Regions from separate parts of the Homo sapiens genome. Here region 1 is reported to be linked to region 2. The links are microRNA targets in miRTarBase. Many come from high-throughput screens and were not tested one by one. Region 2 holds a microRNA gene; the other region holds the end of a gene's coding sequence.

Region 1 (15,107 bases), not on the chromosome of region 2:
GGAGACAGAACACAGCTTTAAGAGCCAAACAGGCCTGGGTTTTAATCTCACCCCTGCCACATACTATGTGACTTTGGGAAAGTTGCCAGATCTCACCTAAGGTGGATTCTTCATCTATAAACAAAAAACAATACCCACTTTGTAGGCATATACATGTGCAGAACTTAGCAGGAGCTCAAAAAATGGTAGCAATTGGCCGGGCGCAGTGGCTCACGCCTGTAATCCCAGCACTTTGAGAGGCCGAGGTGGGTGGATCACAAGGTCAGGAGTTCGAGACCAGCCTGACCAACATGGTGAAACCCTGTCTCTACTAATAATACAAAAATTAGCCAGGCATGGTGGTGCCCGGCTGTAATCCCTGCTACTTGGGAGGCTGAGAGAGGAGAATTGCTTGAACCTGGGAGGTGAAGGTTGCAGTGAGCCAAGATTGTGCCACTGTACTCCAGCCTGGGCGACAGAGCGAGACTCCGTCTAAAAAAAAAAGGGTAGCCATTACCCTAGGTCTCCCAGGATGCCTGCTGAATAAATATTTAATTCAACGTAACTTCTTGTTTTAAAAGGCGCTTTATGATTATGAAATGTATTTTTGTCATTCTGAAATTATTTTGGATGTGGAGTCTCACATTTTTAAAATCTGTTGGTTTCCTACTTGGCAGATGGGAAAACTGAGGTTCAAAGAAGTAAAGTGACTGTTCCAAGGCTGTATAGTTAGTGGCAGAGTTACAAATGGGTCCAAGTCAATGACCAAGCTAATTTATTTATTTATTTAGAGGTCTCACTCTGTTGCCTGGGCTGGAGCACAGTGGCATGATGACAGCTCACTGTAGCCTCAACCTCCTGGGCTCAAGCAATTCTCCCACCTCAGCCTCCCAAGTAGCTGGGACCACAGGCATGCACCACCATGCCCAGCTAATGTTTTAAAATTTTTGTAGAGACAGGGGTCTCACTTCTTGTCCCAGCTGGTCTCAAATCTGGCTTCAAGCAATCCTCCTGCCTTGGCCTCTCAAAGTGCTGGGATTAAAGGCATGAGCCATTGCATCCTGCCCAAGCTAATTTTTAAAAACTCAGAAATAAATGCTGTATCTATCAAATAACAAATTACATCCTTTAGTTACAGGGCTCCTGTACTCAAGAGGCAGGTTGGCAGAATGAGAAGTGCTGTAGGTAGGCCTGTAATCTGAAGATGCAGGTTCTGGTCCTGTTCACACTCAGGTCCCTCACGTGAAAGGCAAGAGTAAACATGAAATACCGTGATTTCTCCTTATTTCATGTACAAATGCTAGACAAGTGTAACATCTTTGTGGAATCACTTTTCTTCTGGGCTACTATAAACTCTTTTTTTTTTTTTTTTTTGAGACAGAGTCTCGCTGTGTTGCCCAGGCTGGAGTGCAGTGGCGCGACCTCAGCTCACTTCAGCCTCCGACTCCCGGGTTCAAGCCTCAGCTCCTGCCTCAGCCTCCTGAGTAGCTGGGACTACAGGCATGCACCACCATGCCCAGCTAATTTTTGTATTTTTTGTAGAGACGGGGTTTCACTATGTTGGCCAGGCTGGTCTCAAACTCCTGATCTCAGGTGATTGCCCGCCTTGGCCTCCAAAAGTGCTGGATTATAGGCATGAGCCACTGCCCCCGGCCTACTATAAATTTTTGAAGGGCAGATGCTGTCATCTTTTTCCACATTCTCCATAGCCCCTATTATGGTGGTTTGAAATAAGAAAAAAAGTGTGTTGAAGGAATGAAAGGTTGCCTGAGTGAATGGAAGAATGTCCTCTATTTCCTGTTTCCAGCTCCCCAGCTCCCCATCTGCCTTGGGGTGGCTGGGAGGGGATAACTGTCATTCAGACCTGGCCCTAGGCCAGGAAAACGGGTTTGTCATGGAAGGAAATTGAAGATGCTGCGTTTACATTGGAGATTTGCTCTCAATTTCCTATCGGACTGCGAGCTTCCTGAATGGGGTATAGGAGCCTGTCATTCATTTTTGTTTCCACTGCTCAGCTTCCATGTTTGGTACCGGCTCTCAAGATGCTTTGAGATGGACTAGGCAGGAGATCTGAGGATCAAAAGCTCAGGCTCAAATGGAGCAGAGAGAGCACAACATTCCCATCCTTAGACTGCTCTGAGAGAAAATGGGCTTGCTGGTGGAATAGAGATGGGTGGGCTGGAAATGGGATGCACAAAAAAAGGCATATCCCCCTCGACACCCACTCATGCCCCAATTTTGAAGGAAAATTTTCATCCTGGTGTAGGGAAAAGGCAAATTCCCCAGGATGTAATAAGGAACATTTTCAAGTTGTAAGAAACCGGAACATCTTTATATCATTCATTCGATCAGGAAAAAAAAATTTTTTTTTGAATCCTGTCAAACCTGGATCCCTTTGTATCCATCTACTTAGAATATTTTTTCCTTCTCCCTACTCCTTTCCTCTTTTTGTTATTTTTCTTCTTCTGCTGTTGTTGTTTAAAACAATTCTTTTCTATATTGGAGCAAGAAACATTTCACCAGACTGTGAGGATTTGGCCCATACTGTGAAGCAAAGGGGCTTTCTAAACTCAATTTTCTTTCTTCTTTTTAAGTCCCCCCTTTCCCCTGTCCCTCGGGAGAGACAACAGAAAATAATTGATCCATCATCCAGTATCAGGCCCAGGAGATTTACATGCAAATTCCTCCTCGACCCCTTTCCAAATTTAAAATCCTAGAAGGGAAAAGAAAAATTCTAAAAGTAGCAGGAACCCTGCTGGCCACACCCCACCCCTTACCAGGTGAGAGATGTGGAGGGGATAATTCACCACAACCCCCCAGTTTCCTCCCGCGTCACACACGCCACCCCTCTCTGGTGTGGAACCACTTAAGATTTGGGTAAAACTCCCCTCTCGCCCTGGAGACGGGATCTGGAAGCTTTTAGGGGGCGGAGGTAGAGGTGGGGAGGCAGAAGGAAAATTCCCTCAAACGTTCGTCAGGCCTAAGAGAGTCGTCCCTTCACTCAAAATTGCCCGTCACCCCCCGCCCCCCACCATTAACTTTCGATTAAGACCTCCTCCTTAGGGCAACTAAACTTTACTTTGCACAATTAAGATTTGCCGCAGAAGAAGCGGGAGGGAGAAGCCGCAGCTCCGGGCCATTCTCCTTTCCCTCGCTCCCTCCAAGCCCCCCGCCCCAACCCTCCAGCTCCGGGCCTCCGAGTTCCTGAGTTTTCTCACTTTGAGGTGCCACCGAACACAAAGAACCATAATGGGCTCCTTTGTGTTGGCTACGGGGCAATTACGCCTCGGAGTCCTGGTCCCTTTAAGAGTCTCTTAAAGAGACAGGATCCCATTTTTCAGAGGGTTTTTTAAGGGTGTGTGGAGGGGGAGGGCGAGGGATCTACGTGTAAAGTGAAGTGAAACTTTCGCCTGGGCTCCAGAAAGAGCGGACAGAAAAGGTCTTTGTAAATTGTTAGTTTTTTTAAAGTCTGTTTTAATTTTTAAATTTGAGATTTTTCACTCGATTTGAAAAATTGGACTAGGAATAGGTGGGGTTCGAGGATCGGGGGCGGGGGCAAGGGTTTAAAGAGTCCCCACCCGGCAGAGCACCTCGGCCCGGGAAGAGGAGTGAGCCAGGGTCGAGTAGTGTCCCCCGATCTCGCCGCGGCAACTCCGGAGAAATCCCGGGCTGGGCAAACAGCCCTTAATATAATAATAGCTTGTCTCTTTAAAAAGCAAAAGGGGGGGAAAGTTTTGTTGGCATCTGGTTTCTGATCTCATTATGTTGTGGTCGACCAATCCAGCCCTCGGGCCTGGTCCTCGGGTTTAAATCTGATTGGCCGAGAGCACATTTTGGGTTGGTGCTTAGAGCTCGACGGGGCGGTTTCAAGGATCCCTTTTTTGGGGGGCTGAGGAGAGGGCGGGGCCGCCAGCGGGGGCCCCCTTGAAACCGACTAATTGGGATCGGAGAGGCCGAGGTGAGGGCTGGAGGAGGCACAAAGAAGTCGCTGGGTGCAGAAGGGAGGGGAGAGGGGGAGCTGAGAGGCGAGAGGAGGAGGAAGAGGAGAGAGGGCAGCAGCGCGCGGTGTCTCCGGCTGCTCAGTCCGACCGCGGCAAGCAAGCGGGCAGGCGCACCGCCCCCTCCCCCGCCCGGCCTCCCCAACTCTGCGGCCGCGAGTAAAGTTTGCAAAGAGGCGCGGGAGGCGGCAGCCGCAGCGAGGAGGCGGCGGGGAAGAAGCGCAGTCTCCGGGTTGGGGGCGGGGGCGGGGGGGGCGCCAAGGAGCCGGGTGGGGGGCGGCGGCCAGCATGCGGCCCCGCAGCGCCCTGCCCCGCCTGCTGCTGCCGCTGCTGCTGCTGCCCGCCGCCGGGCCGGCCCAGTTCCACGGGGAGAAGGGCATCTCCATCCCGGACCACGGCTTCTGCCAGCCCATCTCCATCCCGCTGTGCACGGACATCGCCTACAACCAGACCATCATGCCCAACCTTCTGGGCCACACGAACCAGGAGGACGCAGGCCTAGAGGTGCACCAGTTCTATCCGCTGGTGAAGGTGCAGTGCTCGCCCGAACTGCGCTTCTTCCTGTGCTCCATGTACGCACCCGTGTGCACCGTGCTGGAACAGGCCATCCCGCCGTGCCGCTCTATCTGTGAGCGCGCGCGCCAGGGCTGCGAAGCCCTCATGAACAAGTTCGGTTTTCAGTGGCCCGAGCGCCTGCGCTGCGAGCACTTCCCGCGCCACGGCGCCGAGCAGATCTGCGTCGGCCAGAACCACTCCGAGGACGGAGCTCCCGCGCTACTCACCACCGCGCCGCCGCCGGGACTGCAGCCGGGTGCCGGGGGCACCCCGGGTGGCCCGGGCGGCGGCGGCGCTCCCCCGCGCTACGCCACGCTGGAGCACCCCTTCCACTGCCCGCGCGTCCTCAAGGTGCCATCCTATCTCAGCTACAAGTTTCTGGGCGAGCGTGATTGTGCTGCGCCCTGCGAACCTGCGCGGCCCGATGGTTCCATGTTCTTCTCACAGGAGGAGACGCGTTTCGCGCGCCTCTGGATCCTCACCTGGTCGGTGCTGTGCTGCGCTTCCACCTTCTTCACTGTCACCACGTACTTGGTAGACATGCAGCGCTTCCGCTACCCAGAGCGGCCTATCATTTTTCTGTCGGGCTGCTACACCATGGTGTCGGTGGCCTACATCGCGGGCTTCGTGCTCCAGGAGCGCGTGGTGTGCAACGAGCGCTTCTCCGAGGACGGTTACCGCACGGTGGTGCAGGGCACCAAGAAGGAGGGCTGCACCATCCTCTTCATGATGCTCTACTTCTTCAGCATGGCCAGCTCCATCTGGTGGGTCATCCTGTCGCTCACCTGGTTCCTGGCAGCCGGCATGAAGTGGGGCCACGAGGCCATCGAGGCCAACTCTCAGTACTTCCACCTGGCCGCCTGGGCCGTGCCGGCCGTCAAGACCATCACCATCCTGGCCATGGGCCAGATCGACGGCGACCTGCTGAGCGGCGTGTGCTTCGTAGGCCTCAACAGCCTGGACCCGCTGCGGGGCTTCGTGCTAGCGCCGCTCTTCGTGTACCTGTTCATCGGCACGTCCTTCCTCCTGGCCGGCTTCGTGTCGCTCTTCCGCATCCGCACCATCATGAAGCACGACGGCACCAAGACCGAAAAGCTGGAGCGGCTCATGGTGCGCATCGGCGTCTTCTCCGTGCTCTACACAGTGCCCGCCACCATCGTCATCGCTTGCTACTTCTACGAGCAGGCCTTCCGCGAGCACTGGGAGCGCTCGTGGGTGAGCCAGCACTGCAAGAGCCTGGCCATCCCGTGCCCGGCGCACTACACGCCGCGCATGTCGCCCGACTTCACGGTCTACATGATCAAATACCTCATGACGCTCATCGTGGGCATCACGTCGGGCTTCTGGATCTGGTCGGGCAAGACGCTGCACTCGTGGAGGAAGTTCTACACTCGCCTCACCAACAGCCGACACGGTGAGACCACCGTGTGAGGGACGCCCCCAGGCCGGAACCGCGCGGCGCTTTCCTCCGCCCGGGGTGGGGCCCCTACAGACTCCGTATTTTATTTTTTTAAATAAAAAACGATCGAAACCATTTCACTTTTAGGTTGCTTTTTAAAAGAGAACTCTCTGCCCAACACCCCCACAAGGTTTGTAATTAAAACTGTAAATAGTCTTTGTAAATTTAATTATATATATTTTCTATTTAAAAGAAAAAAGGAGAAAAAAAAACAGGGGTGTGGGCGCCAGGACTGAAGAATGAGGTGTGTGTGTGTTGGGGAGTGTAGTTGGGGGGAGGGTTCTCTTTCTTAAGTGCCCTTCAAAACCCGCCCCACTTTTGGAGTTTTTTGGTGATATGGCAGGGCTGGGCCTGATGGGAGAGGCACCCAGCCTGAGCGCTGTTTTTGTTGGCTTTGAGTCGTTAGGAGTTTGTTCCATTCAACTAATATAAAAGCCAAATTTGTGAGCCTCCTCTCTGACGCTGGGCCTGTGGAAGCCGTTGGATATTTTTGAACAGGACTTGGATTCGTTTTGTTTCCTTCCCCCTTTTCTTTCCCTACTCATTTGTCCTGTCTTCTTCACTCACTCTTGGAAAAGTCCCAACAGAGATGAAGACGTGGAAAAAAAAATCGGGGTCGGGGTGTGCTGGTGGGGAGAGGGCAGAGATCCGGTGAGGAATGGCTTCCACCCCCTGGCCCATTCCCCTGCAGGCTGGAAGATCTTTCTCCTGTCTGGCTTCTCTTCTTTTCAATTCGCTGCACCAAGTGCTTCCAGTGGCCCAAAAATGCTTTTTGAAGTGTGTTTTGAAACAGCCCCCACCAACATACACCCCACCAGGAGTACTGATCCTGCCTCCCTTCATGTCTAGGGGAAGCATTCGCCTTTGAGCACTTGTTTGCAAATCTGGGGAGTTTGAGACCTCCTAGCATCTCTTCCCTTCTTTCCCTGCAGTCTATTCACTCCCGCAGCCAAAAATCTCTGGCGTTCAGGTTAGCAGTTTCTGGGTTGGTTTGTGTGGGTTTTTGTTGTTGTTTGGGGCTTATTTTTTTCAAAAAGTGATAAAGACGGGTGGGTTGGAGGGAGGGGACTGATGGGCTGGTGGGCTTTTTAGTTTTCCTTTGAGAAAAAGACTGGTTTATTTAAAATTTGTCCAGAAAAAAATGAAAAAAAAAAAAAAGGTGGTATCTTTGCTTTAGAAGAAGTCTCTGGATAGGCCCTTTGTGGCTGTGGGGGTGGGTTGAGTGTTTACATTACATTCTATATCACAAGATTGATAGGATGTTTAAAGCAGATGTTTCTTATCTTCCCCTGAGCCCCTACAAATAAAGTCAAGACTTTTCTTTTTTTGAGACGGAGTCTTGCTCTGTCGCCCAGGCTGGAGTGCAGTGGTGCGATCTTGGCTCACTGCAACCTCCACTGCAGCGTTTCTCCTGCCTCAGCCTCCCAAGTAGCTGGGACTACAGGCGCACGCCACCACTCCTTGCTAATTTTTGTATTTTTAGTAGACACAGGGTTTCACCATATTGGCCAGGCTGGTCTCGAACTCCTGACCTCGTTATCTGCCTGCCTCGGCCTCCTAAAGTGCTGGGATTACAGGAGTGAGCCACAGTGCCTGGCCTGTCAAGACTTCTCTTAAGTTAACTTCCTGAGAAGTGATGTCTAAAAGTATCTTTGCTGGTGTGAGAACTCCAGTTTCCAACACATATTATTTCCCTCAACTATTTGGAATATTTTAGAATTTTAATTCCAAAGGATTAGTTTGAATACAAGTATGCCACATAACTCAGTTTTCGCCATCTTCCATTTCTTAACAGTGTAAATTAAAAGCTAATAATCATAATAATAAAGTGCATTTAATTATCTTTGAGAGATCTATCCTTTTAATTGTATTTAACAGGGTTGTAACATTTTATTAGTTTAACCAAACCACACCTCCTCCTCCCCTCTCTCCCTTACCTACTTGGCTGGGGGTGGGGCAGAGAAGAGTGCTCCCAGCCCTGGACCTTGCTTTCTTAGCTAAATGGTGATGGGAGAAATGGTGCCTTACCACCCTTTGTTGGCTGTCTTCCGGACAAGGGAGAAAGTTAAGTTAGAACCCCTACTTCGAAGTGTTTGCTTGTGTTAGTTTATGTTGGGGGAGGGGAACTGGAAATGTTTGGTGGTAATTGAAGTGATATGTGGGGCTTTGTTTGGAATTGTATGAAGCCTGTGGATTTCAGCAGCGCCCCCTCCCAAAAATATATAATTTCCCCCCAAATCATCTGTGTCAGTGGCCAGTTAAACCTAGCTTTTTATCAAATGATGACAAGTGTGAGATCTCAACATGAGGTTCCCTCAATTATCAAAGAAGCAGGCGGGAGGAGGTGTCACCGCCCCCGGCTCCATTTGTTGCAGGATTCTAAAGGGACCCCGCAAAGGCTGCAGGAAAGAGTAAAATTACAAACAAATTGTGAGTGCCTCTCCTTGTAATAATGGGAAAAGCCAGAGAATCAGGTGGGATTTTCCAGTACCTGGTATTGAGCTCAGTGGGAAGAGGAGCTGGTCTCTGTTGAAGATTGGGGAGAGCCTCTCCCACCTATAAGCCACCCAAGATCTTGGCTCTGTGTGCTTTGGGTACATTTGTCCCTGGACCCTCGCACTGAGCAACCCCCTCCTCAAAGTCTCCTGCCAACATAAAGGAAGAGAGCCTGAGACACTGACAAAATAGATTATATGACTGAGGAGGAAGACAGATAATAAGACAGTTCCATCTTTTGGAAAGAACAGATCTTAGAGATACCCTTCCCCTTCTTCAGGGGGAGTAGCCAAGGGCTGAATTACCCTACTGAAAATTGTTGTGGGGGAACCCTCCTCTCCACACCCTTGTCCTGTTTCTTAAATGAAACACTCTTAGAGGAAGGGAAGCTTTAGACCACAGTTTGGGGAATTTGGGGTAAAGAGGAGAAAGCACCCTGGAGGAAGACTCAGAGGTAAACCACCTGAACTCACTGCCTCACGGGAGAGGGCACCTCAGCTCCCTTGTTCAGAAAACCCAGTTAAAAACAGGAGCTTAGAGATCTGCTTTTGGAGATTTCTAGGTCGTCCTTTGAGCAGAAAAGGGTTTCCATGTTGTAAGTGGGCTGGTCCCTCCCTCTGGAAGAGCGAGGCTTTGTGTTTGCTGGAGGGTCAGGGCCAAGAAGGAAATACACTCACCTGTGGCACCTGGGCCTGGGGCAGGTCTCAGGCCCACGCTGCTTTCTGCCTGCTCTTCTGCCCTCCCCCAGGGCAATGGTCTGGGGTTTCAAGGTCCCAGGCATTTCTCCTCCAGACTCCCCCCTCTTATTGATCAGGCTTTCCCTCCTCCCAGCCCAGACTTCCCTCCAGAAGACTTTAACGTTAGTTCCAAACTTTTTGCCCTTTAAGATTTTTTGAAGAGCTAGCTCTAGAAAAAGGCCACTAAAGTTTCTCAAGACAAAATTCTTCTGAACATCCCCAAAGAATTAAGATTAGGTTCAGCCCAGTGGGATGGGGAACTGCTTTTTGTTCCAAAATCTCTTCAGGAGGGTGGGGAGATGCTGTCCCGGGGGTGCCTGCCATGGGGTCTGAGCCGGGCGAGCCCTCCCTTCTGCAGTCTTGCTACTCACTGTACCAGGGTCCCTCCTCCTCTAGAATCACTCTTCTTACCTTAAATGGATCTTAAACTTCTGGGGGCCACTGACCATCTGAGAATCTCAAAACTCTTTGGACCTCTTCCTGGAAAAAAAAAATAGCCAGATCCCCCATGAATATGCAATTGTGTGTAGCTTTAGGAAGTTTCTAGATCATCCCTCCCTGACCTCTCTCCCTACCCGCCTGCCCCCAAACTAGTTTTCGAGTCGCTGGTCTAGACATTTTTTTTTTTTTTTTTTGAGACTGAGTCTCACTCTGTCGCCCAGGCTGGAGTGTAGTGGCGCGATCTCAGCTCACTGCAATCTCCGCCTCCCGAGTTCAAGCAATTCTCCTGCCTCAACCTCCTGAGTAGCTGGGATTACAGGTGTGCATCACCACACCTGGCTAATTTTTGTATTTTTAGTAGAGATGGGGTTTCACCACGATGGCCAGGCTGGTCTCAAACTCCTGACCTCAGGTGATCCTCCCGCCTCGGCCTCCCAAAGTACTGGAATTACAGGCATGAGCCGCCGTGCCTGGCCTGTCTAGACATTTTCTAGTCCTGATTACTAGCTACCTCTCCTTCTCTAAAGGACAGCCCTTACCTTCTCAGACTCCAGTATCCCCCGGTCTCTAATCACCTCTGCTATGGAAAGGGGGTGGGGGTGAGGAGGGAAAGCCACTGGGCCTACAAAACCAGGAGTACCCCGGAACCAGATTATTCACTCAGTTCAATCCTGCCCCTTGATCAGGTAACAAGTGATCAAGATGCAGCAGAGTGGAATATGGATGAATGAAATTTGTAGTTGGGAAAAACGGAGAGAGAGACAGACAATGTATGGCGAGCAGAGGCTTTGACATGCTTTGGTACCACTCACTGCAGTAGTAGCTGTGAGCACTTGTGGCATTTTTCTAACCTCTGAGCGTGTGTCCTCATCTATAAAAAGGCTGATAGTACCTGTCTGGTAACATGAGTAGTAGACGGGACCATACATCTACAGAGCCCTCAGGCAGTAGTTCAATAAATTGTAGCACTTTTCCAATTACTTAGAATACATTTATTTATTTATTTATTTTGAGACGGAGTCTGGCTCTGTCGCCCAGGCTGGAGTGCGGTGGCGCGATCTCGGCTCACTGCAAGCTCCGCCTCCCGGGTTCACGCCATTCTCCTGCCTCAGCCTCTGGAGTAGCTGGGACTACAGGCGCCCGCCACCACGCCTGGCTAGTTTTTTTTGTTTTGTTTTGTATTTTTAGTAGAGATGTGGTTTCCCCGGGTTAGCCAGGATGGTCTCGATCTCCTGACCTCGTGATCCGCCCGCCTTGGCCTCCCAAAGTGCTGGGATTACAGGTGTGAGCCACCGCGCCTGGCCCCCACTTAGAATACATTTCCAAAAATAAAATCAGTGGATCAAAAGATCTAATTTCTTGACAAGAGAAGTGTTACCAATAGTTTTTAAACTGTTCCCTATCATTTAAAAGGACCACAGTCTTCCCTTCCCAGCACTTCCCTATCATTTCCTCCGTGTGAAGAGGTACATCTAACTGCCCTTAGAATATGGACGATGACTGGTCTTAGCTGCTTCATGCTGATAGGGGGCATTGTTTTGGGGAAAACAGCAGTCAGACTCCTCCTAGAGGTCTATCTAAGGGTTCCTAGGAAAGGGGAGCCATCATCCGAGGCTCCGATTGCCTGACCGTTTGCAGTTTGGTGGCTTCTAGGCGCAAGAGAATAAAACAAGTTTTATAAGGTTAAGTGTGCATAAATTAAACGTGTATTATACAAGGAAAGAATTTAGTGCCAAAGATTCCAGAGACAAGAAGTAAAATATACTAACAACATTGTACCCTGAGCTGTAAGAAATTAAACCTTATATAGGAGCAGTTCAACTTGAGAAGAGATAACTGTTCTTGCCATATCTTTTAGCAGTTAACAGGTGCACCCTGGGAATTCTGGGATTTGTGGACTTGCACGATGGCCATTAAAGCTTTTGCCTCTTTCCTGTATCTCCTCTCTCTTTCCTGGGCCTCCCAGTCTCTATTATAAAAGACCAAGGTGGCTACTTTCAGGAGTTTCTTCAAAGTACTATCTGGTCCCGGGGCCTGTTTTTGTATCTTCCTTCTGATGTCAGGAGCTGCCCAAGTAATAAATTGATCCTTTAGAATTAGTTGTCCCTCTACTGAATCAGGAGATAGAGAGAGGTGCTTTACCAAGCTCCCTCTTAGCCTCTCCAGGAAGGCAGTGGGATTTTCATCAAATCCCTGGTCAATCATGGACAATTTAGTATAATTGAGGGGCTTGGTCCTAGTTCAATGGTATTGAAATGAATGGTCCCTTCCTGAGGCCACGCCAGTCCTTCCTATAAATCATAATTTGGCCAAACCTTTGTGCAGAGGGCTATGAGGTGCTTTTCCTTCAGATGCTGAGGGTCAAAGCAATCCCAATGGTTCAGAATACATTATACTCCAGAAGAGTATAAGCTGGGGGTGGTGAAGAGAACTGGTTGCCCATTCTGAAAGACAGGGAAAAAAGGCGTCCCCTACTCCCTTCCTTCTTTCAGCGAATACTCAGAGTGTGATGGAGAGAGAAAGCGAGTATCCTCCCTGCACCCTCCACCTCTTGTCCCTGAGCCCTGGTGACCTTGTCAGGTGCCAGCCATGGGTACCAATGCGGTATGTACCCATGAAGCAGGGAAAACCTGGAGAATAGGAATTAACTGCTCTCATCTACACCTCCCTTTCTCCCTCCCTTTCTTCCTGCTGTCAGCAAACTGAGTTCCCTGGGCCTGTTTGTGCCATGGAACATGGCCTCCTTCTATGTGGTGGGGGGTTCACTCGTCAGGAATTGGTTCTGCCCATTTACATTGTGCCTGTTGCCTGGCTTTGGATCCCTCGGACCTGGTTTTTCTCTCTAGGGCCTCAGCCTGAAGCCTGGAATCGAATTTGGGATTGAAAAGTTGGTTTAGAGGCTGTTTGTATCTGTTCAGAGTGTCTCAGATGTGCCCTGCTGAATTTGCAGTTCTCAGCCAGCAGGGGTCGCTCCTCCGTTAACTTCCCTATCAGAAACTACTGGGATGGGGGAGCCCTCTCACTTAGAAAAGGAAAAAAAGAAAAACAGTTAAAAGGCCAAAAAGAGGAGGATTCTGGGAGAAGAACCCCTTGCTTACTGCAAGTGGGCCCCCCTAATCCTTATATCTTTCCTCTAGTTCAGACCGTGTTGAATTCTTTGGCCAGGGGAGGAAAGGTTTTATTGGCGCAGCCGGCAAGAAGCGCCCATCCGTTTGCCCTGTTTGGCTACCACCACGGCTTTCTCCCGCCCACTCTTGGCTGTTGGGCTTGGCCTTTGCCTGCTGCGGGCACGCATGGGCGCCTGAGCTGGGAGGGGAAAGGGTGAAGAAAGGTGCCCTGAGCCATGCCTGTGGCTGTCAAGGTAAAGGTGTACATGGCACCTCTAGGAAAAGTTGGTCTGATTGGCACATTTCAAACCGTGTGAGAGCGGCTGGGTGCGCTGGCTCACGCCTATGATCCCAGCACTTTGGGAGGCCGAGGCGGGCGGATCACAAGGTCAGGGGTTGGAGACCAGCCTGACCAACATGGTGAAACCCAGTCTCTACTAACAATACAAAAATTAGCCGGGCGTGGTGGCGCTTGCCTGTAATCCCAGCTACTCAGGAGGCTGAGGCAGGAGAATCGTTTGAACCTGGGAAGCGGAGGTTGCAGTGAGCCAAGATCGCACCACCGCACTCCAGCCTGGGTGATAGAATGAGACTCCGTCTCAAAAAAAAAAAAAAAAAAACAAACAAAGAAAAGAAAAAGAAAAATGAGGCCCAGAGGCCAGAGAGACACTGCCTGAAGCTCACAGGTAATTGCAGAATTGGAGCTCAAACCCAGCTTTTAGTCCTTATGCTTTTTTTTAGACTAATTTTTTTAGAGGAAGGTACAAGAGTTCCCATATACCCCTGTCCCTACACATACATAACCTACCTTCCCCATTATCAACATCCCTCACCAGAGGAGTACTTTTTTTTTTTTTTTTTTTTTTGAGATGGAGTCTCGCTCTGTCGCCCAGGCTAGAGTGCAGTGGCACATCTTAGCTCACTGCAACCTCTGCCTCCCTGGTTCAAACGATTCTCCTGCCTCAGCCTCCCAAGTAGCTGGGATTACAGGCATCCACTACCACGCCTAGCTAATTTTTGTATTTTTAGTAGAGATAGGGTTTTACCATATTGGCCAGGGTGGTCACGAACTCCTGACCTCAGATGATCCGTTTGTCTCAGCCTCCCAAAGTGCTGAGATTACAGGCATGAGCTACTACATCCGGCCACCAAAGGAGTACATTTGTTACAATTGATAAACCTACACTGACACATCATTATCAATCAAAGTCCACAGTTTACATTAAGGTTCACTGTTGGTTTACTTTCTTGTTTGTTTGTTTTTGAGACAGGGTCTCTGTCACCCAGGCTACAGTGCAGTGGTACGATCTCGACTCACTGCAGCCTTGACCTCCTGGGCTCAAGGGATCCTCCCACCTCAGCCCCCCAAGTGGCTAGGACTACAGGTGTGTGCCACCACAGCTGACTAATTTTTGTGTGTGTGTGTGTGGTTTTTTTGTTTTGTTTTGGTTTGGTTTTTTTAGTAGAGACAGGGTTTTGCCATATTGCCCAGGCTGGTTTTGAACTCCTGAGCTCGAGTGATCCGCCTGCCTTGGCCTCCCAGAGTGCTAGGATTACAGGTGTGAGCCACCGTGCCTGGACTTGTGTTGTACTTTCTATAATGTATAATGACATATATACAACATTAAAGTATCACACAGACTATTTTCGCTGACCTAAATATCCTCTATGCTCTACCTATTCAACCCTCCCAGCCCCACCAACCCCTAGCAACCACTGATCTTTTTACTGTCTCCACAGTTTTGCCTTTTCTAGAATATCATAGAGTTGGAATCATACTATATGTAGCCTTTTCAGATTGGCTTCTTTGACTTAGTAATATGCATTTCAGGTTCCTCCACGTGTTTTTGAGAGGTGACAGCCTGCTGGCAGCCCTCGCTCACTCTCGGCGCCTCCTCTGCCTGGGCTCCCACTTTGGCGGCACGTGAGGAGCCCTTCAGCCCACCACTGCACTGTGGGAGCCCCTTCCTGGGCTGCCCAAGGCTGGAGCTGGCTCCCTCAGCTTGCGGGGAGGTGTGGAGGGAGAGGCGCGGGCAGGAACTGGGGCTGCACGGGGCGCTTGGGGGCCAGCGCGAGTTCTGGGTGGGCGTGGGCTCGGCGGGCCCCGCACTCGTAGCGGCCAGCCAGCCCGCAAGCCCCGGGCAGTGAGGGGCTTAGCACCTGGGCCAGTAGCTGCTGTGCTGGATTTCTCGCCAGGCCTTAGCTGCCTCCCTGCTGGGCAGGGCTCGGGACCTGCAGCCCACTATGCCTGAGCCTCCACCCCTTCCTCTCCCCCACGCCGTGGGCTCCTGCACGGCCCGAGCCTCCCGGAGAGCGCTGCCCCCTGCTCTAGGGC
Region 2 (15,107 bases):
CCCTGAGTGGCCACCATCCGACCATCAGTGGAGCAGAGGCCAGAGACCATCAATCTATCAGATGGTCCTGGGGCCCTGCTTCCACTGCACAAGAATGCCTTCAAGTCACATGATCAAGAAGAAGCTGGGCAAGAATGGGCCCAGGAGCCCGGGTCCCTGGGTCTGCTGTCCTCAGCAGGTGCCAAGGACAGAAAAAGTCAGAAAAGGTGTCTATGGTCAGAAAAAGTCAGAAAGGTAGTCTCACTCCTTGGAAGGAGGCTCCAAGGTGGGGACCAGAGCTGCAGGGGGAGGAGGAGCTCCTGGCAGCACTGAAATAGGCTCTGGCAGGATCCCAGAGTCTGTGGTTCCATCCTTCTATTTTTCCTTTTCTTTGAGAGCTTGGAATCTTCTTCCATTTGATGGTAAGTCTGCAGCCATGGACAATCAATTTACAAAAGGACTTCTCAGCACCATTTCCGCAGCCTGCCCTGTGGAAAGCTGATGAGAGCACACTGCTGTCTCGCACAAGTGACCATCCAGATTTCGCCAACAGGTAGAGATTATTTCTTAAATCTGTCTCAGTAATGGTATCCCCCAGACCATCAACATAGAGTGGGGGCAGACTTCTCCACCAGTGGGTCCAGATGACCCATGGTTGAAGCCTGCTCTAGAAGCTCATCTGCTATGGGGTCATTGTTTCCGCATATCGATCTTTCATATTCTGATCAGCAAGGGGTCATCTGGATCTGCAGGCTTCTCATGTCTGTGCGGACACTCCCCTCCTCTCTCACCCTCTCCTTTTACCCACAAAGAGCAAATGTGGGGCTTATTCCTTAAGTAGTAAGAGTGTGTCCTGGGCCAGTTTGAGCAGCGTGTCACTGGTAGATGCAGCTTTCCCCAGCAGGACAGCTGGTCATGTTCTATCAGGGTTAGAATTCCCTCTCTCCATATCTGCAGTCACCTTTTAAAGACAGTTCTGCATCATGAAGCTGGACGGGCAGTCCTACTCCAGGTGTGAGAGGCAGGTCTGATGGACATTTCCTGCAGGCTTGGCACCCTTCAGTCTTCTTGGAATGCATGTGCACCCCAGAGCCCCAGCCAGACACTGAATGGCCTGGCACAGATTTTGCACTTTTTCTCATACTTTTCTTTGGTCATTCAGATACATGGGTTTTCTCCAGGACACGTGTGACACAGAAGAGAGAAGCATCCTCCCAGGTTTGTCTGTTTTAGGTGCTGGAGCCCAGAGAGGTCTCCTCTTGAGAGGATCGGCAGGCAGCTGTAGCTTTTCAGGTGGGAGAGAGGACCCCCACAATCCCGCCGGCCCCAGCTCTTCTTTCTGGCTCTGTTCTTGAGACCCTGGGCAATTGCCTTTGACCGTGTGTGATTCGTCTTTCTTGACTCAAGGTGAACCTCACTTCCAAGGAATCTCCATTCCTGGAGGAAACTCTTGGCTTCCTAGTATCTCCAAGAACTGGCCTGGAAGAGACAGAGAAATGTGGATAAATCTTGAAATACTCACAGTGTATCCTTGGTACTTTTCAAAGACCCTCCCCTCTACACTGACAGGGCTTAAGGAAACCTTGTGTCTGCTGCTGGGAGATGACAAAACCTTAAATGAGAAGGTCAAGAACCAGGATCCCTGGAAAAAGAAATGTCCAATCTCTAAACTCATAGACATGTTGGAGAACATCTGTGTGTCTGGATATTTATTGTGTCCAATGATGGATAATGACTCAAAAACTCACTGGCTGTGGTGGCTCACACCATTAATCCCAGCAATTTGGGAGGCCGAGGCAGGTGGATCACCTGAGGTCAGGAGTTTGAGACCAGCCTGGCCAACATGGTGAAACCCCGTCTCTACTAAAAATACAAAACTTAGCAGGATACCATGGTGTGAGCCTGTAAACCCAGCTACTTGAGAGGCTGAGGCAAGACAGTCATTTGAACCCAGGAGGCAGAGGTTGCAGTGAGCTAAGATCGTCCCACTGTACTCCGGCCTGGGCAACAGAGACCCTGTCTCAAAGAAATAAAAAAAACCCTAACAAACAAAAATAAAATGCGAAAGCAAAAAGATTTTGGCTAAGTACTCCTGGCCTGGAAGGGCTCTTTGTTTTACATGCAGGTGATCTGTCCTGAAAAGAGGCCTCCTGGTCACAAAGTCTTACTGGGTAAGAGCTCCAAGTACACAGAGCCACAGGCCCATCATCCATGGAGCTGCCTCTGCTGCCCAGGATGGAAACATGGAAACTCAGGGTAAAGGCGACTGAGGCTAGAACAAAAAGATTAGGGGGAAAAAAAGAAAACTAATCTGAAAAAATTAAAGAAAAATATTCTAACATAAAGTAATTTTTATTAAAGCCTTGTCTCTGAATAAGTTAAATATGGCATATCACAGTATTGTACATAATAATTTAAAATTTTAACTATTGGCCAAGCACAGTGGCTCATGCCTGTAATCCCAGCGCTTTGGGAGGCCAAGGTGGGAGAATTGTGTAAACCTAGGAATTGGAACTAGCCTGGGCCACAGAGTGAGACCATGTCTCTGCCAAACAATAAAACATTAGCTGGGCATGGTGGCATGGCCTGTAAAACAATAAATAAAAATGAAACTCTAACTGTCACAAACTAAGCTACAATATTTATGTCATCATAAAGTAATAGACAATGTATTTCATTCCAAAAGAAATAATCAAGAATTGATTTCAAAATCAATTCAGAGCTTTGCCTTCTCTGTATGGTGGAAGAGCAAGAAACAGACTCCCTCTGGAACCAAACACATAGGAAGCCAGACCAACTACATGAACCAGATGTTTCCAGACACTAGAAGCATCTGCAAGGAGCACAGGACTGAGGTCTGGAGGCTGAAACTAAGGGGACCACATTGCTGCCCCAGCTTAGAGCCTGCAGAGCCTCCTGGCAGTGCAGGGTGGTTGGATATAGGCAACGCATGGAAGTCCCCACATTAAAGAGATAGGGTTGAGAATGTGAGGAGAGAAAAACACGGGGCTGAGTACCAGAGAGTAGGGAGGAGTGGCTGAAGTAGGGGTAAGATTGGTGAGTAGAAGATGGGGGCTCATTAAACCATTGGCAGCTATATGGGTAAATACCAATCAAGATAAATAATATTACCCAGTACAAAAGAGAAAAGGCACCCTACACTTTTTTTTTTTTTTTGAGACAGAGTCTTGCTCTGTCACCTAGGCTATAGTGCAATGGCGTGATCTTGACTCACTGCAACCTCCACCTCCTGGTTTCAAGTGATTCTCCTGCCTCAGCCTCCTGAGTAGCTGGGATTACAGGCACACGCCACCATGCCTGGCTAATTTTTGTATTTTTAGTAGAGACGGGGTTTCACCATGTCGGTCAGGTGGTCTCGAACTCCTGACCTAGTGATCTGCCTGCCTCGGCCTCCCAAAGTGCTGGTATGAGCCACCATGCCCAGCCCACCCTACATTTTTTTTTCAGAGCATTTTTACAGAAAACTTGTCATTATGAGTATAATATTGTCTAAAAGTAGCAGAGGAGGGAACATTTCCCAATATATTTTAGAAGGCTAGTATTACTCTCCAACAGAATCAGAGAAAGGCAGTACCAAAAAAAAAAAAAAAACCCTGGAAAACAGTATGCCTCATGAAACTCGACGTGGAAATCCCCAACAAAATGTTATTCAACAGAACCACATGCTTCACCCATGGGTGAATTTCTTCTAGGAATCATAAAGATTTGGGGAAATCAAAGGAAATCTTTTGTTAAGAATCAAAGTTGTAGACTCCTGTCTTGAGTTGATTACTTTGAATTTTTGGTCCCAAAATATATACAGGACCTGGTCTAATTCTATGATCTTTAGCACATGCAGCCAGATGCTGAAGAGAAATAGATACAACAGCGATATGGGAGTTATCCTCTCTAAACCCCAACTGAAAAACCCTGGAGTCAGAAGTTTCAGGTGAACGAGGGAAGGAGAAACAATTCAAACATTTAAATTTAAATTGCTATGAGAATACTGACTTGTTAGAAACTGAAGGAGCGAGCAATGCTTCTAAAGTCCAGCCTTTTCCATCGGAATACGGAGACAGACAACCTCGAAGTGCAGTTTCTTCACAATTGTCTTATCCAGTCATAACATTAATTTCCCTATGAATCAAATCATAAAATAAATATTAAACTCGTGACATATTCTCTGACTAAAAGAAGGCAAGATAAACTGAACGGTTAGTTGTCAGTGTAGTAAATTATGTACAAGAATCTTATCACTGCATTTTTTAATTACAATGGAATTAGAAATAATCTAAGTTTCTATAAAAGAATAAACAGTGAAACAAATCTTGTATGCCCATTGGAATACATTTAAGACATTAAAAATAGGGAGTTAGAATCTCATGCATTGATATAGAATAATGTAAATGATATATTGCCTGTGAAATAGCAAAATTAAAAAATATAGTATGATACAATTTGTGTTCAAAAACTGTACATGTATTTATCTTCTTTTTTTTGTTGGGGGGGGCAGGGTCTCACTCTGTTGCCCAGACAGGAGTGCAATGGCATGATCACAGCTCACTGCAGCCTCGACCTCCTGAGCTCAAGGGATCCTCCCTGCTTGGCCTCCCAAAGTGTTGGGATTACAGACATGAGCCACCGCACCTGGCCAACTTTATGTGTATTTATAAATTTATAGAAAACATCCAGAAGAATCAACACCAAGCTATAATAATTCCTTCTAAGAAGGGAGTGAGTTTGGAACGAAGAGGAAGACATGGGAGAATTTTGTTACATAAAGATCTCTATGATCTGCCATTATTCAAACAGCATGCATTTCTTTTATAATTAGAAACAGAAAAACATACACACATTGTTACCATTTGGTAGGAGGGCAATAGTTTTGTTTTCATCAGTATTTGAATTACAGGTGCGTGAAAGCACGAACCTGGAAGAGAAATCCCAGAGGAATAATTAGAACCAAAAAAATCGCACCTCAAAAAGTGAGTGGGTGTTATCTTTACATAACAACAAGCATTCCACGTAAGTGCTGGTCGCTGCTCCAGCTCCCTCAAATCACCTAAGCCCTGCCAAGGGGAAGGCGGAGGATAGGGAAGGCCAAGGGCCAGCAAGTGCTCTCCCCAACTGAAGGCCTGTTTCTAGAAGTTTCCTGTCATTAAGAAGAAAATGGAGTCCAAATGGGATGTGGACCCCTTCGGGATGCTGGCAGAGAAACACAAAGAATATGCCACAGTCATACCTTAGAGGAAGACTTCTAGGTTGAGACTTGAAATTCATCAAAAGCTTGTGTGAAGTAAATAAAGCTACTCTACCTCTCCAAGTGTCAGTTTTCTCACCTATAAAATGAGAACCACATGTCAACTTCATGAAATTGTTGCCAGAGTTAAATTCACAAAGATAATTAAAAATGACTGTTACTGTTACTGTAAGGGTCCACATTACTTTTTAAAAAAGAAAAAAAAAACAGCATCAGACTTCAAAATACACAAAAGGAATAATGTCCATGTGTCCAAAGATGAGATGATCAGCTTTTGAAGCAGCCTGAGGTGCATGAGAATGAGATCTATCCCTAACTAGAACTCTTCACAGCTCCACTGGAAGAGGACACACACAGGGCCCCAAGAAGCTAAGTGCATGGCCAGTGTAGAGTGACTGGTGTAGTGAGGGTGGAATCCCCAAAGACCCTCTGAAATGCAGTTACACAACAGGCTCCCAGGAAACACTGGACCAAACCAGGCAGCTGAGCAGATACTACCAGGAATGGGGTGAGCAGAGGAGGGTCAGAGCCACAAATCTCAGCAGAATACACCAAACTGCAAGGAGCTCCTGGCTCTGTGAACAGCAGCTGTGGCTGCATCAGGACCAATCTTGTGAGGCAGCTGCTGGGGACAGCTGAGATCACGTGTTTTTGCAGCCACCCACCCAACAGCAGTGCCTCTTGAACACAGATCACAAAATCCTCTCCATTCATCTTTAAGGTGACGGATGATGGATGAACTCACATTACAACATCCCCACCAACACTTGCGGACGAGTGTATTTAGAAACTCCCACCTAAAGAGGGAACAGTCAAGAGTAGAATGAGAATATTGAGGGATGGGGGAAGAATGCAGGTACTTGACCCCACAAACTCTACTGAAAACAAGGGAAGAGCTGTTATGCTGTGGTCTCCCTATACTTCACCTCACCACATCCATAGATGCCACATGGTTCTTGTTCCTTTATTGACAAAGGTGCTGATGAGCCCGTGTGTAATTGATCCTGAAGGAGTAAATTCTTCACAAAGTACAATAACAGTGTCTAATATCCATGACCAGAGTTTTTAGGCTTTTTTAAAATAGTAATCCGCATTCAGGAATCAGAAATGAAGCCTGTTGGAATGTGTGATATGAACAAGGTCTTATTTTTATGTAGATTAACACCTTGGTTTTTACGGATTAAACACAAAAGCATAAAAGCTGGAGCCATTCCAGAATCAAAGGAACTTTCCCTGAGGACACCTGGAATTAAGGGACATCAATTATTAGGAAGCTACACGAAACCAGAAGTGCTCCCAGAAGTTTCCATTGTCTGGACAGAAAAATTAAACAGATCAGCCCGAGAGAGTAAAGGTACCTCCGTGAGTGCCGGGGGTGATGAACATTCCATTCAAAGCAAAGTTGTGAAGCCTGAGGAGTTTCAAAGACTCCCCAAGTGCTCTATACCTTGAAAGTCGCTCACACAAAGCTGGAGCACCACCTGTTCCTGAGAATCAGGTTGCCATTGTGTCTTTGAGACACTGCCCAGTCAGGCCTCGGTTGAGATGAGGCCAATGATGTCACGTGTAAAATGCCTAAACTATCTTCATCTTTAGGTAGCTATTTGGGGAACTTTCCACCAAATGGGTTGGGGGAAAATGGCGCACCAGAGACACACGCCTGGGATGTGAGATTTTCTCTTCTGCTGTTAGCATCTCCTGGGTAAACCAATAATGACCCTCTCTGCCACCTCAACATCCACATCCGCGAAAAAGGCGCTGGTGAGGGTGACATTTTCATGAAGCCACAGAGCATGTTGCCCCACGCAAAGCTCTGAACTTGTGCACTGGCGGGCCGGGCGGCGGATTTCTCCCCATAGCGGCTGCACTGCGCTCTGGCTGGAGAGAAAAGAGGGCAGCGGCACAGTGGACAGTGCCTGGACCGCAGGCCAGTTCCCACAGCAGCTTAGGAAAGCAGGTGGCTCCCTGGGCTGGAGGAGGCGTGATGTCCAGGAAAGACCCCGGGTGCAGGTGGGAGAGGGAACCCAGCCTAGCAGCGGGAAGTGAGGTGAGGACCACACCCGTCCGAGTTGGACAAGGGCGAGGTGCACTTCGCGGCGTCACACCCTCCTCACTGCCCAACCCGGACCTGCCCCTCCTGTCCCTCTCCGGACTCACATCCCATGGCAAGGAGGTGTCCGAAATCAGTAGCCAGCATCGCTGTGGAAGCGGCGAGATCCACACTGCCCTGCCCAACCCTCTTGGGCTGCCCGCCTTCTCGCATATCGCCTGCTAGGATTCTAGTCCAGCCGCCTTGCCACCAACGGGCGGGGAACCGTTAAGAGCTACAGTTTCCAGCCTGCGTGGCCAGGAGCGCACCGCCCCGCTCCTCCCGCAAGAACTGCGCCCCGCCCCTGAGACCGGGGCATGCTGGGATTGCAGTCCCGAAGCGCTTGAAACAACGGGCGGGAGCGGTGAAGAGACTACAGCTCCCAGCATGCAGAGCCAGGCCGGCAGAGCCAGGCCGGCACAGCCCGGCTTCCCCCTTCAGGACTGCGCGCCGCCCCATGTTCATGCTGGCTGGGATTGTAATCCGGTCGCCCTGCAATTAAAAAACTGGAAGCTAATCAAAGATGACAAGTCCCAGTATGCCAGGCGTAGCTCCCGCCCTCCAATCCACACCTTCCCGAGTCCAGAGCAGTTCTGCCATGCCAAAGGGGAGCCTGGTTGTTCCCGAACCTCTCTTGCCTGCCAAGTGACAGCGAGACCAGGCGGCTTGTCTTATCGTGTAATTATGTCACTACCTCTCCCTGAGATGCTGGCTTCATGCTTCGTCATTGCCAGAAGTTTGATTTCTCACGGAGCAGCAGGGGACCTGGAGCTACTCGCAAAGCTGTCACGGTTGCCATATCTTGGAGCAGTACTCGCCCCGCCCCTTCTCCTCGCCCCGCTCCTTCCCTCTGCGCTGCCTCTCCCCTCGGCACCGCCCCTCCGTCTCGCCCCACCCCTGACACGCCCCCTTTGAACATGCGCAGTGTAGTCCCTGCGTAGGACGGGCTAATCGCCAGGTGTCTGACTGTTCTCCGACTTCTTGGCATCCTACGCGGGAAGCTCCCTCGTGAGTGTCTGAAACCGTCCGTTCGCTGCCAGAAATGGATATATGCGTTCCCTGATAACCTAGCACTTGCCTTTTCAAAGCCACCATTTCCTCTATCCTCTAGGCTGTCGCAAATCCTCCTGTTCATCCCAGGAGTGCCCCTTGGACCCCGGGCTGGCTGCATGACCCACACCTGGGTCAGGCCTCTCACAGGGACGCTCCTGCCACTCTGACAAAGAGTTGAAAACGTCACAGCGAAAGGCCTGACCCTGCTGCATCCAGTCAGGAAACAGCCACAGGGAAGGGAGCCCCTAAGACACTTTGGGAGCCACATCCACCGCTTCTCTGCCCCCGATCCAGGCTGGTTCCCAGACCTTGGGGTCCTAGTGTGGACCTCCCGGCCGTAATTAACGCAGGTGCAGGGCCAGAGAGCCCCTTGGTCCCTCCCAACACATAAGGGAAGTTTGTGTGGTGAGGTCATGAACAGTGTCTGCGTTTCTGCTGTGAATAGGACCTTCATGGAAACACTTAATTTCCCTTTTTAAATATCCCTTTGGAACCACGTTTAATAATTTGCTGGTGGAACTTAACAGTGATAATTCTTTGAATCCATTTTTCTTTTTTCTTTTTTTGACACGGAGTCTCACTCTGTAGCCCAGGCTGGAGTGCAGTGACTGACTCGATCTGGGCTCACTGAAACCTCCGCCTCCTGGGTTCAAGCAATTGTTCTGCCCCAGCCTCCCCAGTAGTTGAAATTACAGACACCCGCCACCTTGCCGGGCTAATTTTTGTATTTTTAGTACAGATGGGGTTTCGCCATGTTGGCCAGTCTGGTCTCGAACTCCTGATCTCAAGTGATCCGCCCGTCTCAGCCTCTCAAAGTGCTGGGATTGCAGGCGTGAGCCACTGTGCCCGGCCTGAATCCATTTTAACATTTAGTTTTCCAGATTAACTCGAAGTACCCCACGACTACACGCTAATGAAACTAGAGGAGGCACAGCCTCAGCTCCGTGCAGGAGGGACGCACAAGAGCAGAATCTCCGTGGGACATCTTTCTGGAGCATCAGTATTACTGCAGGATTTGGAAGAAACGAATTTAAATAATTTCCAACGTAAGACACTGGAAATTTAAGAGAAGGCTGGAAAGTCATTGGCCTTTAATAACTGTCAGTCATCTGTGCCTAAGTCAGACTTTCTCCAAGAAAAAAAAAAAAAAAACTCTAAGGAGAACCTATTTTTCATTCTTCTAAGTAGTTAAAATTAGAAATCACAGCAAGTCAATAGAAAGCTCTGCCCTGCTAGTCTTCTAAATCACAATATGGCCTTGGTATGGATTTATTTGTATTTTTTGGAGGGGTGTGTTGACATGTTGGGTATAAAAATTGGGGGGTTTTGACAAATTTTGGAAGTTTTCAGCTATTAGTTGGTGATTTACTTTGTACCTCATTTAATTTTCCTGTCCCCTCTTCAACTTGGACTCAATCACTCCACAGGTCTCTAAGACTCTTCATTTTCTTTAAGATTTTTCACTCTTTTATTCAGAATGGACAATTTCTATTGCTCTGTGTTCTGTTTCTAATCTTTGAATAAGCTCAAAAGTATTTTTTAAATTTCCTTATCTTCCTATTGTTTCGTAATTTCCATGTCTTTGCTGAGGTTCCACAGCTCTTCATTCATGATTAGAATATTTTCCTTTACCCCCATGAACAGATTTATAATGGCTGCCTTTAAACATCCTGAATTACAACATCTTAAATATCTTAGGATCACTTCTACTGCCTGCTTTTTAAATTGTGTATGGATCTCATTTTCGTGTTTCTTCACACGTCTCATGAATTTTAATGTTGTGTACTAAAACTGTAAAGAATCATTATAGAGACTCTCGATTATGTTGTGTACCTTTGAAAAGCAGTGTTATTGTTTACAAATGGTGTTAATTGGGCTAGATTCAAACGTCAACACCTATCTCCCCTATAGTGGGCACAGCTGAAATCCTCATTCAGTTCTTACTCACACGTAGGTCATATTTGTATTATATAGATGTGTTTCTATAACAATATATAATATACTATTCAAGTTTCATCATTATAATCTGTGTTAATTCAACAAGCTACTCCAGTGTTACTGAAAGCCAGGAGCTCAGTTTTGTCTGCTTATTGGATTTTGTATAAATCAAATTATATAGTATGTACACTTTTACATTTACTTACTTTTATGGAACATTATATTTGTGATATGCATTCATGCTGTTGCAGATAGATATAGTCTGTTCTTTTTTTTTTTCCGAGATGGAGTCTCGCTCTGTTGCTCAGGCTAGAGTGCAGTGGTGCAATCTTGGTTCACTTCAACCTCCACCTCCTGGGTTCAAGCAATTCTCTTGCCTCAGCCTCTTGAGTAGCTGGGATTAGAGGTATGCACCACCACACCTTGCTATTTTTTGTACTTTTAGTAGAGATGGGGCTTCACCATGTTGGCCAGGCTGTTCTTGAACTCCTGACCTCAGGTGATCTGCCCACCTCCACCTCCCAAAGTACTGGGATTACAGGCTTGAGCCACTGCGCCCGGCCAACAATTTTTTTTTTCATTTTAACAGTCTTTAAGTGTGCAGGTCAAAGGAATTAAGCAGAGTCACACAGTTTTACGAGCATCCTCCATATTTATAGGGAGTGTTTTTCATCTTGCAAAACTGAAACTCTGTACCCGTTAAACACCTCACCTACCTTCCTGTAGCCCCAGGAATAACTCTTCTACTTTGTGTCTCTGTAAACTTAACTACTTTAAGTACCTTGTATGAGTGGAGTCATACAGTATAGTGAAGAAATCATGAGAAAGTATAATACACACTATATAACATATGTTTATTTATTTGAACAAAAATACTAACAGAGATCAGTAGTACATGATAGAGGGAGATAAAAAAGAGAAAAGGATTGGACAGACACATTAAAATTATGACAATGATGCTCAAGTATTACAGTAGTGAGTCCCCTGCCCCAGTCACAGGGCTGATAACAGTGGAGCTGGGAGCCCAGCCCAAACTTCACTGAGCCCTGAGGCACTCTGCCCCTGCCACCTGGGCACTCAGTAGACCTGAGATTCTTCATGGCCTGGTATTCTTGGCCTTGAGGGTGTGGCTGGCCTACTGGGATGGGGCTCAGCAGCAGGACAGGTTGTAACTGTAGGACACAGCAGCAGCTGTGAGACTCCAGGAGCCACACCTCCGGCCTCCCTCCCAGTGCCTGCCCATTCAACAGGGCCTGCTGCTGACCAGGGAGCCGTGGCCACAGGATGTCTGAAACTGACCACAAGACAGAGTCTCCGCCCACCCTCTGTCAATCCGCTAGGCTCTCACCTCTCAATCAGACTGTGCGGCTCCACGGACTTGAAACCAACCCCATACCTCCTGAGTCCGAAGATGATAATTCCCTCTTGTCACGGAAGCAGCTGCATTTCTTGGAGGACTTTAATCTCCTGGAGCCAGAGGGGAAAAACAGGAGGCTGACAGGGCCTGGGTGGAAGATGCCGAAGGGCCCTTGGGGACGGAGTAAACTGGGGCTGATCTCTAGGGCTTTTCTCTTAGTAGGTCCCCTCTTCTCCAATCCCATGCAGCCCCACCCTTTTCTCAGAGTTGGATATAAACAGAGAAACAGCCCCCGCTAGGAATTTGTCCAGGATTCCTGTCCCCTACCCACACCCTCCATTGGGATGGGTCTCGTCCTCTGTGTATCAAACCCTCCCAATAAATCCAGGTTGCAGAGGATGGAGCCGGGGAGTGTTCTACCCAGGGTCAGTGGGTGGGGGTCTCTGACTTCCACATCCCCATCCTCCCCCAAAGTGAGGGCCCCAGCTGCGCCCCTTTTTCCTTTCTGGGTGTTGATCACATTTCCCTGGAAGACAGCCAGCCAAAGACCCTCAGAAAGGACCCTGGCCCATGACTTGCCCCCATCCCCACACCCTCCCACACTGCCAGGCCAGCAGGGGTGAAAAATGTGCATAGAACAGCACTGGGACCTGCATCAGGCTCTGGGCTCTAGACGAGGAGGTGTGGGAGCTGTAGCTCAGGGACCTTCTGCCCCAACACTCTCTGACAACAGACAGACAAACGGAGGCCCAGTATACAAAGAAAATGCTCGGCCACTTAGGAGCTGCCTGACTTGGGAGGGGCATAATTTCCCTCTCCTTCCGTGGGCACCGCCTGAGGGAGAGGCTGAGTCCAGCTCCTGCGGCTCCTGCAGCTTTGCAGTCAGGCAGCTCTGCAGCTTCACCACTCAGGGAACAGGGACTGGCAGCTGCTCTGGAGCCTCCACCATTCAGAGGTAAAATGGGCCTGACGCCCCAGCTCAGGGGGCATGGGGAGGACGGTGGGGTTCACACAAGAGGAGGCTTGCTGAGATGGAAGGGCTGAGTCCAAGGCTGTTTCCTCCCAAACCTCAGGATCCCGGTCCCCAACCTGCCTGCCCCAGGCTCACTCCCATCCACACAGTCCTTCATGGCAGTGTCCAGGTTCACCAGTTCAGTAAGGAACCCCCACAGAGAAGGCACATCACCTTGGCCATTGGGGTGGTAGTGGTGGTGAGCCCCCACAGAGAAGGCACATCACCTTGGCCATTGGGGTGGTAGTGGTGGTGAGCCCCCACTGTCAGGTGCCCACCCAAAACCTGCCCCCTGAAATATCACCAATCACTCCTGCCCAGACACCCCCTCCCCAGGTCTCCCACTTGGAACAGCCCAGGACCCTCAGCTGCCTCCCCCAGCCCTCCCCCTCCTCTCCCCTGTCTCCCCAGCTGGACTCCAAGGCCACTAGACACCCCCAGTTACTTCTATGGTGGAATGTTAACAAGTCACAAGGTCATGGGGTCCCCTGTCCCAGCTTTTGCCAAATCTACACTGAACCCAGCTCACCCAGGCGGTTTCTCTGCTCCCTCTAATGGAGGCATTTCAGGCCCTGTGGCCACAGGAGGGCAGGGCTGGGGGAGGAAGACCCCTTACTCTCTTGATGTGGAGGCCTCCAGCTGTGGGGGAAGAAGCCTGTCTTCCGACTCCCTGGAGCCCCTCTCACCACAGATTACTCGCCTGCTGCCCCACAGCCTCATCTGCGCTGTCTAGGGATTCGTCACCAGGTCACCCCTGTCCACTGGGTCATACTTTCCGCTCCACCTCTCGGCTGCCATCTGTGGGGCTAAGAGCAGTGTGGGAGAAGCCTGGTGGATGGGTCGCATGACGTGTCTGAGACCATCCTCACTATCTTTGCTGAGGGTGAGCACCAGGCCTGGAGAGGTGGGGCGGGGCGGGGCCCGGTGCTGCCCAGTGGGGCCTGTGGCTGGAACCCCGGCCTAGGCCTTTGGCGAAGTGGGACCCTCACCCTCAGCCCCAGCCAAGAACGGCAAGGTCGGCTCCCCACCCCAGCACAGGCTGGACGATCCATGGCTTCAGGCCAGGACAGAACCCCTGAGATCGGTGGGATCCCCCTGTTTCTTCAAGGAACACCTCCTCTTGCTTTCCACAGCAGGAATTCGAGCAGGCCACAGTGGAGCCTCTTCCATGCCTGTTGGATGCAGCCTCTCTTGCAGGGATGCACATCTTTGAGTTGGAGCCATAGCCTTGACCCTGGGCCTCTGGGGCCCTGACCCTAACCAAGGGCCCCAGAGCTCCCTCTTGGGTTTGCAAGCACGTGAAGATACAGGGAGAGAGGCTAAGTGCAGTGGCTCACGCCTATAATCCCAGCACTTTAGGAGGCTGAGGTGGGCAGATCACCTGAAGTCAGGAGTTTGAGACCAGACTGGCCAACCTGATGATACACTGGTCTCTACTGAAAATACAAAAAAATTAACTAGGCGTGGTGGTGCACACCTGTAATCCTAACTACTTGGGAGGCCGAGGCAGGAGAATCACTTGAACCTGGGAGGAGGAGGTTGCAGTGAACCGAGATCATGCCACTGAACTCCAGCCTGGTCTACAGAGTTAGACTATCTCAATAAATAAATAAATAAATAAAAAATCCACATACCTCTCACCCAATTTGCCTGCTAGGAAATTCCTTGTGAGCACCAAGAACTTTACTGAACTCTAAGTCATCCCTCTGCTCACCTGAGACAAACACATATTTGATTGGTTCCTCTGCTGGAAAAATGCACATTCCCAGAGCTAGACAAAGGCATACATTATGGCCAGGGGTGGTGGCTCACACCTGATATCCCAGCACTTTGGGATGCCAAGGAGGGTGGGTCACCTGAGGTCAGGAGATCACGACTCGCCTGACCAACATGGTGAAACCCGTTTCATTTTTTTTTTTTGAGACAGAGTCTTGCTCTGTAACCCAGGTTGGGGTGCAGTGGTGCAATCTCTGCACATTGCAACCTCTGCCTCCTGAGTTCAAGCAATTCTCCTTCCTCAGCCTCCAGAGTAGCTGGGATTATAGGCACATGCCACTACTGCCTGGCTAATTTTTGTATTTTTAGTAGAGATGGGGTTTTGCCATGTTGGCCAGGCTGGTCTTGAACTCCTGACCTCAGCTGATCTGCCTGCCTCAGCCTCCAAAAGTGTTAGGATTACAGGCGTGAGCCACCACGCCTGGTGAAATCCCATTTCTACTAAAAATACAAAAATTAGCCAGGTGTGGTGGCAGGCACCTGTAATCACAGCTACTCGGGAGGCTGAGGGAGGAGCATCACTTGAAACTGGGAGGCAGAGGTTTGCAGTGAGCTGAGGTTGTGCTATTGCACTCCAGCCCAGGCAACAAGAGCGAAACTCTGTCCAAAAAAAAGGAAAGAAAGAAAAAGAAAGAAAAAAAGA

Evidence for each region. Region 2 holds the annotated microRNA hsa-miR-3147 (GGUUGGGCAGUGAGGAGGGUGUGA, at 7,339-7,362, opposite strand). A microRNA usually pairs through its seed, bases 2 to 8, with sites in the 3' UTR of a target mRNA and lowers its output. Matches are read on the target gene's strand: a 7mer-m8 pairs with bases 2 to 8, a 7mer-A1 pairs with bases 2 to 7 and ends in A, and an 8mer does both.
Region 1: the mRNA of FZD2 is a reported target of hsa-miR-3147. Seed matches in the 3' UTR shown: 8mer at 6,104-6,111 and 7mer-A1 at 6,571-6,577.

Annotation. Positions count from the first base shown.
Region 1 is chr17:44,553,424-44,568,530 of GRCh38, forward strand. It overlaps FZD2 (frizzled class receptor 2), which reads left to right and starts at 4,061. Exons shown (of 1, transcript NM_001466.4): 1 at 4,061-7,839. The coding sequence starts at 4,266. The coding sequence ends at 5,963. RefSeq lists enhancers at 2,556-3,325, 3,326-4,093, 4,311-5,271 and silencers at 3,768-3,867, 4,266-4,512, 4,758-4,807, 13,745-13,945.
Region 2 is chr7:57,397,285-57,412,391 of GRCh38, reverse strand. It overlaps MIR3147 (microRNA 3147), which reads right to left and starts at 7,367; the gene lies at 7,302-7,367. MIR3147HG (MIR3147 host gene) reads right to left here and starts at 7,625. Exons shown (of 3, transcript NR_120505.1): 1 at 7,397-7,625; 2 at 3,991-4,116; 3 at 245-1,458. LOC105375299 (a long non-coding RNA gene) reads left to right here and starts at 8,273. Exons shown (of 2, transcript XR_927305.3): 1 at 8,273-8,336; 2 at 9,255-10,395.